Linked DNA regions of Homo sapiens. The protein of the gene in region 2 purifies or fractionates together with the protein of the main gene of each other region. This does not show direct contact. Each region holds a gene or a part of one and is shown on either strand. Other genes may lie near its edges.

Region 1 (7,000 bases), on a different chromosome or scaffold from region 2:
GAACACCTGAGCTCTAGTGATCCGCCCGTCTCTACCTCTCAAAGTACTGGGACTACAGGCGTGAGCCACTGCACCTAGCTGGTCCATTTTTCTCTTACTATTTTCAATTTTTTTTTATCTTTTTAGAGACAGGGTTTTGCCATGTTGGTCATGTTGGTCTCTAACTCCTGAGCTCAAGTGATATTCCCACCTAGGCCTCCCAAAGTGTTTGGATTATAGGCATTAGCCACCACACTGGGTTCCGGTCCATTTTTAGGATCTCTTTTTCTTCATATAAACAGTAATGTTGGCCAGGCATGGTGGCTCACACCTGTAATCCTAGCACTTTGGGAGGGCAAGGTGGGCGGATCACCTGAGGTCAGGAGTTCAAGACCAGCCTGGCCAACACGGTGAAACCCTGTATCTACTAAAAATATAAAAATTAGTGGGGCGTGATGGCATATGCCTGTAATCCCAGCTACTCCGGAGGCTGATGCAGGAGAATTGCTTGAACCTGGGAGGCGGAGGTTGCAGTGAGCCGAGATTGCGCCACTGCACTTCAGAGCCTGGGTGACAGAGGGAGACTCTGTCTCAAAAAAATAAAAAAATGCAATAAAGCAGTAGTGTCAACATTATTATCTTCACACGTGGAAGGGAAAAATAGTAATGATAAAAGAATGGAGAATGTAAATATACCTATAGTTCAATTTGTGGTACCAGCTAGTATGTGACTTTTCTTTGGTAACTGTTTTATCTTCCTAATTGTATCTCTAGTGTTGGGAAGATTCTTAATCAATAATCTTGATGATGTCCTTTAATAACCCTGGAACAGTCTTTGAGTCATAAAATTTCCTAATTATTATTCATAGGCAAATAGACTATGAAAATTAAGTTTGCATTTCTAGAATGTACCAACAGACACTGGGGGAAGGGAGTCCATACACATTCTGGATGGCTAGGGCAAACTAGGCTATGAAACAGTTGTAAATGGTTCACAAGTGAATAATTGCTGATTGAATCTTAATTTTGTCTCTTAGTGTTTTTGTTCATGTAAAAAGTTCCCTTAATCCTATTGTTGTGTTGCAAGAAGCATAACAATTTCTCTTGGGTTTTTTTTTCCCATGCCAATATTGGCAAAAGTGCAAATATACCATGAAGCCATACAATTTTTTATTGTTTTTATCATAACAGTTAAGCAAGAGAAAATATTGAGCGAAGAAATTTCATCCAAAAGCTTTAACAAAAACATTGAAGCCCTAAAATGTTAAATGATCAGATGTTATTCCCATTCATACATCAGGGGAAGTGATAAACCCTGTGGATGAATCAGCAAGCACTAGCAACTTCATGTTGTGATACCAGAATAAAGAAAATGGAGGAGAAACTGTGACTTTTGATAACATCATGAGACTAACTGATATGAAGGGTGTTCCCTGAGTTTTTATTTACTTTGAAATGTGAAGGTGTGACTAAACTTTTTGAGAGCCTTAGGTATGAGTCACCTTATTTTCTTGACAGATGTTAGTGTTTATGTTTCAGGAATGTGTTTTGGGAACTATTTTAATTTTTGTTAGAGGTAAGAGGTGTTTTTAGTGAGTTTTGATGTTAAAACCACTGAGGAGTATGGGTGTAAGCAGAGCAGGTGAACTTTAGATAGAGCAAAACCAGTGAATCCAGATGTCCCATGGGACCTTTGGGAAAATGAAGTGACATATTTGTAAACTCAAATTATTATGGTAGGGGCTTTCTCTACATGATGCTTAAGGCTGTACCAACAGTATTTCTCTTTTCCTTTTTTCTCTGGGACATAATATTTTTACATTAGTATTTCTTGCTAGTAATAGATAGGTGGAAGAAATATGAGTTCAGTGGTTAAACACATTAGGCAAACGTTCGTTTAAATATTTTTAAAAACCAACATAGGGCTTAAATGAGCCTTTAAAGTGCTGGTCTCCGCAGTGATTCCCAAGAGCATAATTATGTAGCGTTTCTCAAACTTACATGACTGGGACACTTTTTGAGGAAGGCAGATTAACTTTTCTTAGGTTTCCACGTTTGAGGAAATGCCATGTTATTCCCACAGTGTTATAAATCCTGTTTATCATGGACTAGATGAAGCCAGTCCTTAGTGTTTTGGTTTTTTTTTTTTTTTTCTTTTTTGAGACGGAGTCTTGCTCTGTTGCCCAGGCTGGAGTACAGTGGCATGATCTCGACTCACTGCAACCTCTGCCTCCCAGATTCAAGAGAGTCTCCTGCCTCAGCCTCCTGAGTAGTTGGGACTACAGGCATGTGCCACCACACCTGGCTAATTTTTGTATTTTTAGTAGAGACGGGTTTTGCCATGTTGGCTAGGCTGGTTTTGAACTCCTGACCTTGTGATCCTCCCGCCTCAGCCTCTCAAAGTGCTGGGATTACAGATGTGAGCCATCGCGCCTGGCCTCAGTTCTTAGTGTTGAATAAGAGTCACTTTTAATTATTTGACATTGGGAAAACAGAGGTGTAGGGAAACAGACTTCAGAATCAGAACTGTGAAGGTAAGTATTGGGCATGATGGAGGCTGTCTTCCTCCCCATTCCGCCCCATTTGTGTGATCTCTTAATACCTCCCTGAAGTAATTATTCTCTTTACCCACTAATTGGTGAGCTTCTGGAGCAGGCTCGAGGCTTTCAATCTCTAGGGCCTAGCACTGTGCCAAACACATAAACACTTTGTGCGTTAATTGGATAGTTATAGGACATACATTTGATGTATTACTGAAGCTTATTTTTTTCTGCATTAACATAGGGAAGATCATACCTTAACGCCACGTAGCTCACAGTTCTTTTTGTATATTTTGCTGTTGATTCTTACCACATACCATGAAATCCTAGTTCCATTTATGGGGGAGGACACTTAAATGCTTTCCTTTGGTCAAAATAAGGACTTGGACAAGTCTTTGGTACCCCATGATGCACCTGAGGAGAGCATTGCCGTCAGAGTCTGGGCTCCAGACAGGGTTTGAGCTGAGTCACTATGCAGAACAGTCCGCAGTAAGGCCTAGGTACCCCAGGGATAGATAGAGTTGAGCCTGCCTCTCTTGAAAGGAATGCTCTTCAGAGACACAGCAGTCAGGAGGCACATTCTTGTGCCTTTCTTAGGCTTTTTAAAATCCCTGATAGTAAGGTTCTTCACAATAGACAATCTTTCCTTAATTAAAAATACTTGCTCTGCTCGTTAATTTTTCTATGGCATGCATTTTCAAATTGGGTCCTTTTACTTTTTTTTTTTTTTTTAAGTAATATGTTTGTTACGTTTATAGTTTGGAGCTGAATTTCGTCGGTTTTCGCTGGAAAGATCAAAACCTGGAAAATTTGAGGAGTTTTATGGATTACTACAACATGTTCATAAGATCCCCAATGTTGACGTTTTGGTAGGCTATGCAGACATCCATGGAGACTTACTACCTATAAATAATGATGATAATTATCACAAAGCTGTTTCAACGGCCAATCCACTGCTTAGGATATTTATACAAAAGAAGGGTAAGTATCACTGTTTAGAAAAATTGTGTTAGAAATAGAAATAGTGTATTTTCCCCACTGAAAGGATACCCAGACTTTGCCACAAACTTAGTGAATAAACATTTTGTGTGAATCTTCTTATGTTAACTAACATGTGGGTTAAAACATTTGTGATATTGTTGGTTTAATTAATATCTTTATGCTTCACTAAGTGTACTTTAGAAAATTTATATTTCTAGTTACTTTTGTGTTAACCTCTTTGGTTTTATTTTTCCTTAAGTAGAAATTGGGAATTTATTGAATATTGGGAATTTATTGAATCTTCACTTTATCAAATGGATTATTCTCCACTCAGAAAAATGTGAAAAGAGTGTGACTTTGGAATCCAAAGCATTCCTGTTTTTTGGTGGCAACCAACTTTCAAAGGCTGTATTTACCAGTTAATAAATACCAGAAACAAAGCCATTTAATCTTCCTGAGTCTCAATGTCTGCACCTATAGAAAGATTATAATATTTTGTAGAATTACTATGAGGATTAAATGAGCTAAGTGCAGTGCCCTGGCTTATAGTAAGCACCCAGTAAATACTTTCTTTCTTTTACTTTTAGGATACTTTTTAAAGAAATTGTATAAAACTAGTTAATTATCTGGAAAATGAGGTGGGAAGTTACTATTGTGGAAGGATGTAAACACTGATATTAATTAGTCTTCCAAAAAAATTGAAATCACTATTTGGCAATAACTTTCTTTCTTTCTTTTTTTGTAAAGACTGGGTCTTACTATGTTGCCTGGTCTCCGGTGATCCTCCAGTCCCTGCCTCTCAAAGTGCTGGGATTATAGGCATGAGCCACCATGCTCAGCCAAGAATTTTCAAATGTATTTTGAGTCCTAAAACTTTTTTTTTTTAATCTCGTAGCCTTTGTGTGTGTATGTATGTGTGTCTGCAGATAGGCAGGGTAGGGCTTATTATGGTATGTACCATTTTTTCCTTTCTCAATTGTAAATGAAGTGGTTTGGGAAGCCAGCATGAGAGCATCAAGCCTGGTATTGGGATAAATTAAAGACTTACGGTATTTATAAGCCAACCCAGAAAGTAGCTTGAGAGCGGCCAGGCTTGGTGGCTCACGTGTGTAATCCCAGCACTTTGGGAGGTGGAGGCGGGCGGATCATCTGAGGTCAGAAGTTCATGACTAGCATGGCTAACATGGTGAAACCCCATCTCTACTAAAAATACAAAAATTAGCTGGGCATGGTGGCACATGTCTGTAATCCCAGCTATTCAGGAGGCTGAGGCAGGAGAATCAGCCAGGAGGTGGAGGTTGCAGTGAGCCGAGATCGTACCACTGCACTCCAGCCTGGGCAACAGAGCAAGACTCCTCAAAAAAATTTTTTTGAAAAGAAAGTAGCTTGAGAGAATGGGTGGGGATTATCTTTGAAGGTGAAAACTATTTCTAATCAGTTGATAAGCATTAGACCACTCCCAGGGCTCTGGAATTCCACTGATTATGTATCTTTGCTTTCCTGGGTTTGGAGGAACTAAAGTCCACCAACAAAATAAACCTCCAAGGATAACCTCTGCCTATATCACTTGACTATTTTACAAAATACTTTCACACACAAATTAATGTTCCCAAAGTTTCCTGAGATGGATCTCAAAGGTAATTAACAGGAATGCGATATAATGAGAGTATGACCTTAGGAAGATTCAGTTGGCTGTTCAGGATGAATTGGAGTGGGCAGCAGTCTTACAGTAGAGAGCCAGGAGCAGGCGGTAAAGAAGTGAGGAGACTGGCCTAGAAGTAGAGGGGAAGGGTGGGGGGAGGGGAGAAGGCAGTGGCGGGAAGGTAGGAGGGGAAATACTTGGGAGTCATTGCACTCACTGTGGCTGCTTTGCAGTGAAGGAGAGTCCAGCAGAGCATATCTTGATGGTTTGAGTCTGACAGCTGGGACAGTGTCATGAACAAGCAGAGTAGATTGATTTGGAAAAGAAAATTATGAATTTTGTCTTAGGACAAATAATCTTAACCAGTCATTCAGAAGATTAGAAATGGTAGACAAAAGTTCAGGGTAGAAATCCAAAAACTAGTTAGATTTGCAAGCTTTTTGAAAAGTGATAGTTAAAATTTTGGGAGTAGACATAAAGGCTATCTGAGATGAAGACCATGGATAGAACCTTGGAAAGCTATATATAGAGTGCTGGAAAAGGAGGAAGAATTTAAATAATTATGGTTGAATAATAGGCCTTTCTTGTTAGCAATTGTAATTTTCTTTAAAAAGTTAGTTGCTGTTTGGATGTGCATTCAAATATAGAGTGGGTTTTTAAAGTATTGCCATGTGACAGAATTTTGTTGGATTATCCCCTTTGGTAGAAAGATTATGACAGTTGAGTTATACCACCACATGTTTTGTTAATGGAATTATACTCTTGCATGATTATGGAATTAATCCTAACATCTTTTAAGGGTAGTTATCTTTTATTTCCTTTCTAAGTTTTTATTTATTGGTGGTATAATTTTTATTGAGACCTTTGATGGTTTTTATTGTTGTCATAGGAATTACAACTTAGAAATATGTTTCTATGTGCAAATGTTTTCTATTTATTAATGGTAAAATGTCCAATATAATTGATAGCCCTTAGAATTTGATTTAGAAATAGGCAATTCAACAGAAATATTTTAGATTTTAAAAATATAAATTTAATACAAATATGACTTTAGCAAAAATGAAAGTAGGTAGTCAGTTCATTCCTGCTTAAAACCCTCTGATGATTTCCCATTGCAACCAGAATAAAATCCCTTCTGATTTGGACTTCCCAACCTCATCTTCCCTCATTCTCTCACTCCCTCATCACAGTCAGCCACACTGGCTTCCTTCCTGTTCCTCAGACTTGATGAGCTTGTTTCTTTTTTTTTTTTTTTTTGAGATGGAGTCTTGCTCTGTCACCCAGGCTGGAGTGCAGTGGTGCAATCTCGGCTCACTGCAACCTCTGCTTCCCAGGTTCAAGTGATTGTCCTGCCTCAGCCTCCTGAGTAGCTGAGACTACAGGTGCATGCCACCATGCCTGGCTAATTTTTGTATTTTTAGTAGAGATGGGGTGTCACCATGTTGGCCAGGCTGGTCTCGAACTCCTGACCTCAGGTGATCCACCCGTCTTGGCCTCGAAGTGTTCTGGGATTACAGGTGTGAGCCACTGCACCCAGCCGTTAGCTTGTTTCTGTTTCTGTGCTCTTATGCTTGGTTATTCTTAAGGACACTTCACCCTCGGTTCTTCCCACGTCTGCCTCCTCCTGCTTAGCTCAGATAAGTTTGTCAGAGGAGTCTCTTCTGACTACCCTAACTAAAGCCCTCCACCTTCCCACCTTTACCACATCATCCTCTGAAGACCTGGAAATATCTTATTTAAGAATATGTTAACTTGTTTCCTGTCTGTCTGGTTTACCATCAGGTCGCAGCATCTAAATCTGGCAGACTTACTTAGTGTACTATAATGCATGCACTCTTTTTTTTGTGGAGTGGGGACG
Region 2 (7,149 bases):
AGCATTACAGTTACTGCCTTTCTGCTCAGGAAGCTGAGGCAGAGAGAAGCAGCGTGACCTGTCTGAGGTCACACAATGCGACCTGGACCCTGAATCTTGTTTGTAGCCTAGCAAGCCTGGGGAGCAGGGGCCGTGTGGCCCCCCTGCTGGCTGCTCTGAGCCGAACCTGGGTGCGTGGCCGGCCGCAGCCTCACCTCAGGCCTCACCTCTCCTGGGGGGCCAGCCGGGTGCCGCTTCCGGCTGGACACCCGGCTCCGACGCATCCGGCGGAATGACTGACGCAAGGACTTCTTGAGGGACTTGACGCGGGAGAGTGGGCCCTCCAAGGCCAGCTGGTCACTGGGGTGCAGTGTGCACCTTGGGGGGATGGCAGGCTGTCAGTGCTGCTAGGTCCTGGGAGTCCTCGCGGGCCCCACTCCCAGCCCCGGGACCCAGCCGCCCCTGCTCACTTAACAAAGACCTGCCGCCGCTGCTGGTGGTCAAAGAGGCCAAAGCCATGGCTGGTGCCGAAGGCCACGAGCCGCCACTCAGAGTGCAGGGCCAAGGAGGTGACCACAGCCGGGGGCTGACACTGCACCAACACGAAGGGCTGAAAGCCAGGCTCAAAGCGCACGGGCCCTGAGCGGGCTGCCAGGCGCTCGTGCCCCTTCCAGCGGTAGCCCTCTTGGTCCTGCAGCAGGTCGGCCTCCACCTGCTCCACAGCCTGCTCCGCTGCCTCGTCATTCAGTTCCAGTACCAGCACCTGCGCAGGGTGGCAGGTGGCTCAGCAAGCCCTCAGCAAAGGGACGGCAGGGCCGCAGGATGCTACTAGTGGGGACAGCAAAGGAGCTGGGCCCAAGGCTCAAGGAAGGACAAAGGCCTCTGTCCAACCCCAGCTCTCCTGCATTTTTTTTTTTTTTTTTTGAGACAAGTCTTGCTCTGTTGCCCAGGCTGGAGCGCAGTGGCACAATCTCGGCTCACTGCAACCTCTGCCTCCCAGGTTCAAGTGATTCTCTTGTCTCGGCCTTCCAGTAGCTGGGATTACAGGCACGAGCCACAAATGCCTGGCTAATTTTTATATTTTTAGTAGAGATGGGGTTTCACCATGTTGGCCAGGCTGGTCTCGAACTCCTGACCTCAGGTGATCCGCCTGCCTTGGTCTCCCAAAGTGCTGGGATTACAGGCATGAGCCACCGTGCCCGGCCCAGCCCTTAATTCCGATTTCTGGAGAAGAAACAACCATCCCAGGGACCTCCCGCCAAGGGGATCAAGCCACCTCCATCCACCGGAAAAGCAAAGGACACAGAATGTGCGTTAGGCAGGTGGTTGGCTCCTGTCCCTGCTGTCCCCAGTCATCGACCACTCCTCCCCAGCTCCCCCTCCCCAGCCCAGCCTGCTACCTGCCCTGCCGTGCCTGCCACAGCCAGGTAGCCGCTGTACTTGCAGAGGAAGATCTTCTGGATGCCCAGCCGGGGGTCATCACTGTAGGGGTCAAAGGAGCCCACCTGGAGAAGGGGAGGGGCCCTGTGAGCAGCCACGGGGACAGGACCCAGCTGGCCTCTGCCCTTCCTGGGTCCCAGGCTCCTGGCCTCACCTTGCGGAGTGGGGGCCACTCGTCCTCGCCCTGGGCACTGAAGTTCTCGTTGGGGTCCGTGTCGGTGAGGAACACGCGCACAGTGCTGAGTTTGTAGAGCAGCCGCAGGCAGACACCCGAGGCATCCCAGAACCGCACCGTGCCGTCCTCGTGCCTGTGGGCAGAACCCACCTGCCAGGCGTGAGAGGGATGCCAGCCGGGATGCCCAGGGGCTGGCTCGTCCACCTCAGGGCTCTGCTCCCACCCCACATATCCTACTGGGAAGAGGTGGGGTAGCATCAAAGTACCCTACCCTGTGAGCAGCAGGTCCCTCTGGGGTGGGGCTGGGGTCAGGCTGGTGCCACCATCAATTGGCCACTCCTAGAAAAAGAGACCAAGAAGTCCATGGGAGAGTTTGGCTTGCGGTGGGGCTGGGGCTGGGGCCAGGGCCAGACCTACCATGGTGGAGAAGTGTGCGTTCTGCCGGCTGCCGGCGGCAATGATCCGCTCCCACAGCTTCAGCGGGATGTTGGAGACGTGGTGAGAGCAGGTGATGGCGGAACAGTGCAGAGAAGCCAGGTAGGGCAGCTGGACCGGTGGCCAGCCTGCTGTCTGCAGGTCAATCACCACCAGCTCCTCCTCAGCCAGCACCACCAGGGCATAGGGGTCGTCAAAGGCTGGGGTACAGGGCAAGGGTCAGGGGCCGGGGCCAGGAGGAAGCAGCCCAGCTCTGTGGAATCAGAAGCTCCAGGGTTGGAGCCAGGGCATCTGCAGATCCAGAAAGCCCTGTTCTTGGCTGCTTGAGCAAAGCCTTTCCATCTCCAGGAGGGCAGCAGGTGTGGGCAGTAGCCCTGGCTCTGCATGCAAGGCTGCTGAGAGCTCCCTGGCACAGGGCTCCTGGGGGGATACACCTGGCTGGAAGGCAGGGTCCCAACCAGGATAGGCACCCCAGAGGCATGCAGCTGTGCCTGCCAACCCTCTTCCCTGGTTTCTCCTCCATGGGGCCTGCTCTCCCTGCTCAGATGCACCTGTCAAGCCTCTCCCCACAGGCAGCAGCACGCGTGGTCTTCAGCACACCAGTTGCTAGGGGTGGCATTTTCTTTACTGCACACAATCACATCACCTCACTCAGGCCTGGACCCAGCTAGTGCTCAATAAATGTGCGCTGGATGATTAAACCATTTGTCTTTTTTTTTTTTTTTCTTTTCTCGAGACAGGGTTTCACACTCTGTCGCCCAGGCTGGAGTACAGTGGTGTGATCTCGGCTCATTGCAACCTCCACCTCCAGGTTCAAGCGATCCTCCTGCCTCAGGCTCCCAAGTAGCTGGGATTACAGGTGTGAGCCACGATACCCAGCTAACTTTTGTATTTTTGGTAGAGACAGGGTTTCGCCATGTTGCTCAGGCTGGTGTTGAACTCCTGGGCTCAAGTGATCTTCCCACCTTGGCCTCCCAAAATGCTGGGATTACAGGCATGAGCCACTGTGCCCAGTCTTTTTTTTCTCTTTTTTTTTTGAGATGGAGTCTTGCTCTGTCACCCAGGCTGGAGTGTAGTGGTGCGATCTCAGCTCACTGCAACCTCCGCCTCCCGGGTTCAAGCGATTCTCCTGCCTCAGCTTCCCAAGTAGCTGGGATTACAGGCACTCACCACCACGCCTGGCTAATTTTTGTTTTTCTTTTTTATTTTTTGAGACGGAGTTTCGCTCTTGTTGCCCAGGCTGGAGTGCAATGGCATGATCTCGGCTCACTGCAACCTCTGCCTCCCGGGTTCAAGAGATTCTCCTGCCTCAGCCTCTCGAGTAGCTGGGATTACAGGCACATACCACCAATGCCTGGCTAATTTTTTATTTTTAGTAGAGACAGGGTTTCACCATGTTGGCCAGGCTAGTCTCGAACCCCTAACCTCAGGTGATCTGCCATCCTTGGCCTCCCAAAGTGCTAGGATTACAGCTGAGCCACTGCCCCTGGCTGACGCTGCCTCTTTGAAGTGCTTGTCTTCCCTGCTACTCTGGGGTCTGCTGCCCGCTGGCTGCTCCCAGGTGTTCTTTGCCAGATCCCCACCAAACTTCATGCCTCCAAGGCTTGAGGGTGCCCGGGCTCAGCTGTCCCATGGCTTCTCTTCTGTCTTCCTTACCACCTGGGCAGCCTCATCAGGGCCCCTGGTTTCACATCTCTTTTTTTCTTTAAACCTCAAAATCATTGAGCAGCCTTCACACATCTCTGCGTGGATGACTCCAAATGGACACCTTCCCGATCTCTCCTCTGAACTCCAGACCCATAAGCCCCAGTTGTCTACTCAGCATCTCCCTTATGGGTCTGGAGATCAGAGGAGACATTAAGTCCTCAGACTTGATCCCCGCCCAGCTGAGCTTGCTGCACCCTCTTGCCACTACCTTCTCCAGGATTCCTGGTGCTCCCAGCAAACCCTCACGTCATCCTTGACTGATCTCTCCTCCCCTCGTTTACCTCTCCCTAGACAAGGGGCCAAGAAATTACAGCCTGAGGACCAAATCTGGCCTCCTGCCTATTCCTGTCAATATGGCTGTCCTGGAACACGGATACGCCCCTTGTGTTGTCCATGGCTACATGTGCTCTGCAATGGCATTAGGCTGAGTAGCTGTGGGGAAGAAAGCCACCCAGCCCTTTATAGCAACAGTCTGTGAGCCCTGACCTGGCCCCTGAGCCAATGCTGAATGTTAGAAAAGACAGCGTAACCCCAGCCACCTCCTGCCAGTCCCATGGCCTGCACCGCAGCCCAAGCTGAGGTCACCTCTCCCTCGACTCTCACTGGGCTCCCGTCTTTGCTCCACTCCGTGTCCCCCACATGGCAGCCAGACAGATCCTTCTGGAGCAGAGGCTAGATCATGGCACCCCTGCTCAGGGCCCTCATCTCCCTCAAACCCCAAGTCCTTACCGTGCCTCCACGGCTCTATACGATCTGGCGCTGGCCACATCTGGACCAGCACGGGGGCCATTCTGCCCTCTCTTCGCCCCTACCTCATTGGAGCAAGCCAAGAGCCCTCCCAGCTCAGTCTGCACCCCAGGTCCCTACAGGGCAAGCCTTCCATCAGACTGCTTCCGTGTCTGCGCAAATACGTCCCCTTATCAGGGAGGCCTTGCCAACCCTTGTCTAAACCAGCACTGCTGTCCTCTGCCTGGCTTTTTTCTTACCTCTGACATTATCTGGCAACCTACTCACTCTGTCCACATACTCAGATCTAAGTTCCATGGGAACAGGGGCCTCATCTGTTTCTAGAACAGGGCCTGGCATATAGCAGTTGCTCATTAAACAGGAGAGCCTACCAAGGACAGCTGGGTCACAACCCGGCACAGCAGAACCATTACGTGAGAGCTTCAGGGTGCCCACATATCATCTGAGGGAAGCACCGCTCATCAGGCACCCACCTCCTGGCCTGCGGGACTGCGGGGAGTTGGGGACACAGAGGGACAATTGCAGGAAGGTGGCCTGTCCTAGAAAGCCCCAGCAGTCTCGAATTTGTAGCTCAGCAAGTTTCTTCCCTCCCTTCCTGACCTTTCCGCTGGGAATCAGGTAACTCAGTTAGCCCGGGGAGTGTGGCCACCATAGCCCAAGAGGCCCCCGCTCTGTGCCAACATGGCCCAAATGTTGTGGAAAGAGCAGAGCTGGGCCCTGCTCTCAGCATCCAGGGTGTGAGGAGGGAGGAGAGGCTGAGAAAGAAAGAAAAGCAGGTTTGGGGTTCCCCTGAACAGGGTAGATAGAGGCCGTGAGTACACAGACCAGGTGTCCTGAACAGCCCCGCCCCCTCACCTTTCGGCCTCAGGCCCTTTCAGGCCAGCATCATTAGGAGAGGGCCCTCCCTCCTGGAGAGCTCCTGCAGGGCTCCTCTCCAGGTTTCAACATCAGCCCTTTCTGGTCTTGCCTGTCACACAATTTACGAGGCTGACTCAGGGCTCTGCCGGTCCTGCTGGAGCTCCAGGAGGCTGCACAGCCACCTTCTGCCCTGCCCAGAAGGCGGGCTTTGCCATCTCTAAGCCAGGACCCTCTTGCCTCAGCGGGGTGGGTGTTAAATCCAACAGTACAGATCAGCCCCCTGTGGGCTAAGTCCCATTACAGTCTGGAAAGGGCAGAGAGCCCGGGGCAGACAGGAGGTGTGGCTGGGCTGGGTCTCTAGCTGGGGAGGGTGGCAGGGAGGCAGAGAAAGGAGCTGTAGGGCTTGATGACACTGCACCTTGGGGTGCAGTGAGGCTAAGGGACTCAGGACAGTGGTAGGCTTAGGAACATCTGTGCAGAGCCCTTTTTTTTTTTTTTTTTGAGACACAGTCTGGCTATGTCACCCAGGCTGAGTACAGTAGCATGATCCTGGTTCGCTGCAACCTCCACCTCCCAGGCTCAAGTGATCCTCCCACCTCAGCCTCCTGAGTAGCTAGGACTACAGGTACGTGCCACAACACCTGGCTAATTTTTTTATTTTTTGTAGAGACAAGGGTCTCCCTACGTTGTCCAGGCTGGACTTGAACTCCTGGGTTCAAGCGATCCTACCACCTTGGCCTCCCACAGCACTGGGGTTACAGGCAGGAGCCACTGCACCTGGCCCTGTCTTTACTGATGGTCCTGCCCCATGCCTCCCACACCTAACCCTGGGCACCCACTCCCGAAGCTCTCCTACTGGCTGCAGGGTCTGCCTCTGTGAGGACAGTGAAGCCGATGACACGGGAGGTGAAGTCGAAGGCCGTCTGCTGGCCATCGTGGATCACTGAGATGCAGTGGCGGTCCCCGTAGCTGGCCCGTGGCATGCCACCCTGGAAGATGGTGAAGGGCAACCTGGCAGGCACAGAGGAGCGGCAGTGGGCTGGGGCTCCTGGCACAGCCTCAACAGCCACAGGCCGGCAATCAAAGTCACCACTCAGTCAAGGTCCCCAGGAGCAGGGGAGACTGGACCCCATCTCCTTCCAACTGCTACAGCCCAGGAGGACTTGGAGGTAAGGTGAGGGCATCCAGGCTGGGGGCTCTGAGTCTCAGCAGCCACTCCTGCCTCATGCTGGGTGCCCCCACCAATTCTGTTTGAACATCACCCAGAGTGATTTTGTCTGAAGAAACAGGGCTGCCAACTAAAGGAGTTTAAGACCTGCTGCTCAGTACCGTCTCTCTGGGAAGGTGGAAGAAAGGAGCAAGAATGAACTTGGCAGGAATTGGGCCGCTGAGAGACGTGAATAGCGTCTACCCTGTCTCCCCTCCCTGGTGTCCAAGACCCCAACACGGGACCTGAGAGTGTTCACTGGCACCAACTTCCCAGGCAGAGGCCTAAGTGACCTTTCTAGCCCTCCAGGAAGGCTCTGGAGAGGAAAGAGGACCAGCATGGATACCTACCCCTGCCTAGTGGTCAGCCAGAGGATTCTGGTAATCGCTTTGCAAGGAAAGGGACCTGAAAGGAAAGGAATCGGCTTGAACGGATCCTCAAACTCTCAGACAAGTGTCAGTCCCCACAGGCACAGATCCCTCTAGCTCATGCCACATCCACATGGTAGACCTGTGCTTGGGAATCTTGCTCCGAGAAGTTCCCCAAGAAACTGGGTGAGGCGAACCCTGCTGTGTGGCTTTGGACAAAGCCTTTACCCTCT

What was found. The genes of interacting proteins can lie anywhere in the genome.
Region 1: the proteins of LLGL2 (region 2) and PARD6B purify together in Homo sapiens (affinity purification with mass spectrometry; 9 studies listed by BioGRID and IntAct, with this or other methods). This does not show direct contact.

The regions. Positions count from the first base shown.
Region 1 is NC_000020.11:50,734,580-50,741,579, forward strand, and holds part of PARD6B (partitioning defective 6 homolog beta), read left to right. Parts: intron 1-3,277; coding exon 3,278-3,500; intron 3,501-7,000. UniProt on the Homo sapiens protein: Adapter protein involved in asymmetrical cell division and cell polarization processes. Probably involved in formation of epithelial tight junctions.
Region 2 is NC_000017.11:75,563,556-75,570,704, reverse strand, and holds part of LLGL2 (LLGL scribble cell polarity complex component 2), read right to left. Parts: intron 6,954-7,149; coding exon 6,899-6,953; intron 6,353-6,898; coding exon 6,198-6,352; coding exon of another isoform or gene 6,163-6,197; exon of another isoform or gene 5,982-6,162; intron 2,230-5,981; coding exon 2,012-2,229; intron 1,934-2,011; coding exon 1,866-1,933; intron 1,728-1,865; coding exon 1,574-1,727; intron 1,485-1,573; coding exon 1,380-1,484; intron 743-1,379; coding exon 450-742; intron 358-449; coding exon 207-357; coding exon of another isoform or gene 195-206; intron 1-194. UniProt on the Homo sapiens protein: Part of a complex with GPSM2/LGN, PRKCI/aPKC and PARD6B/Par-6, which may ensure the correct organization and orientation of bipolar spindles for normal cell division.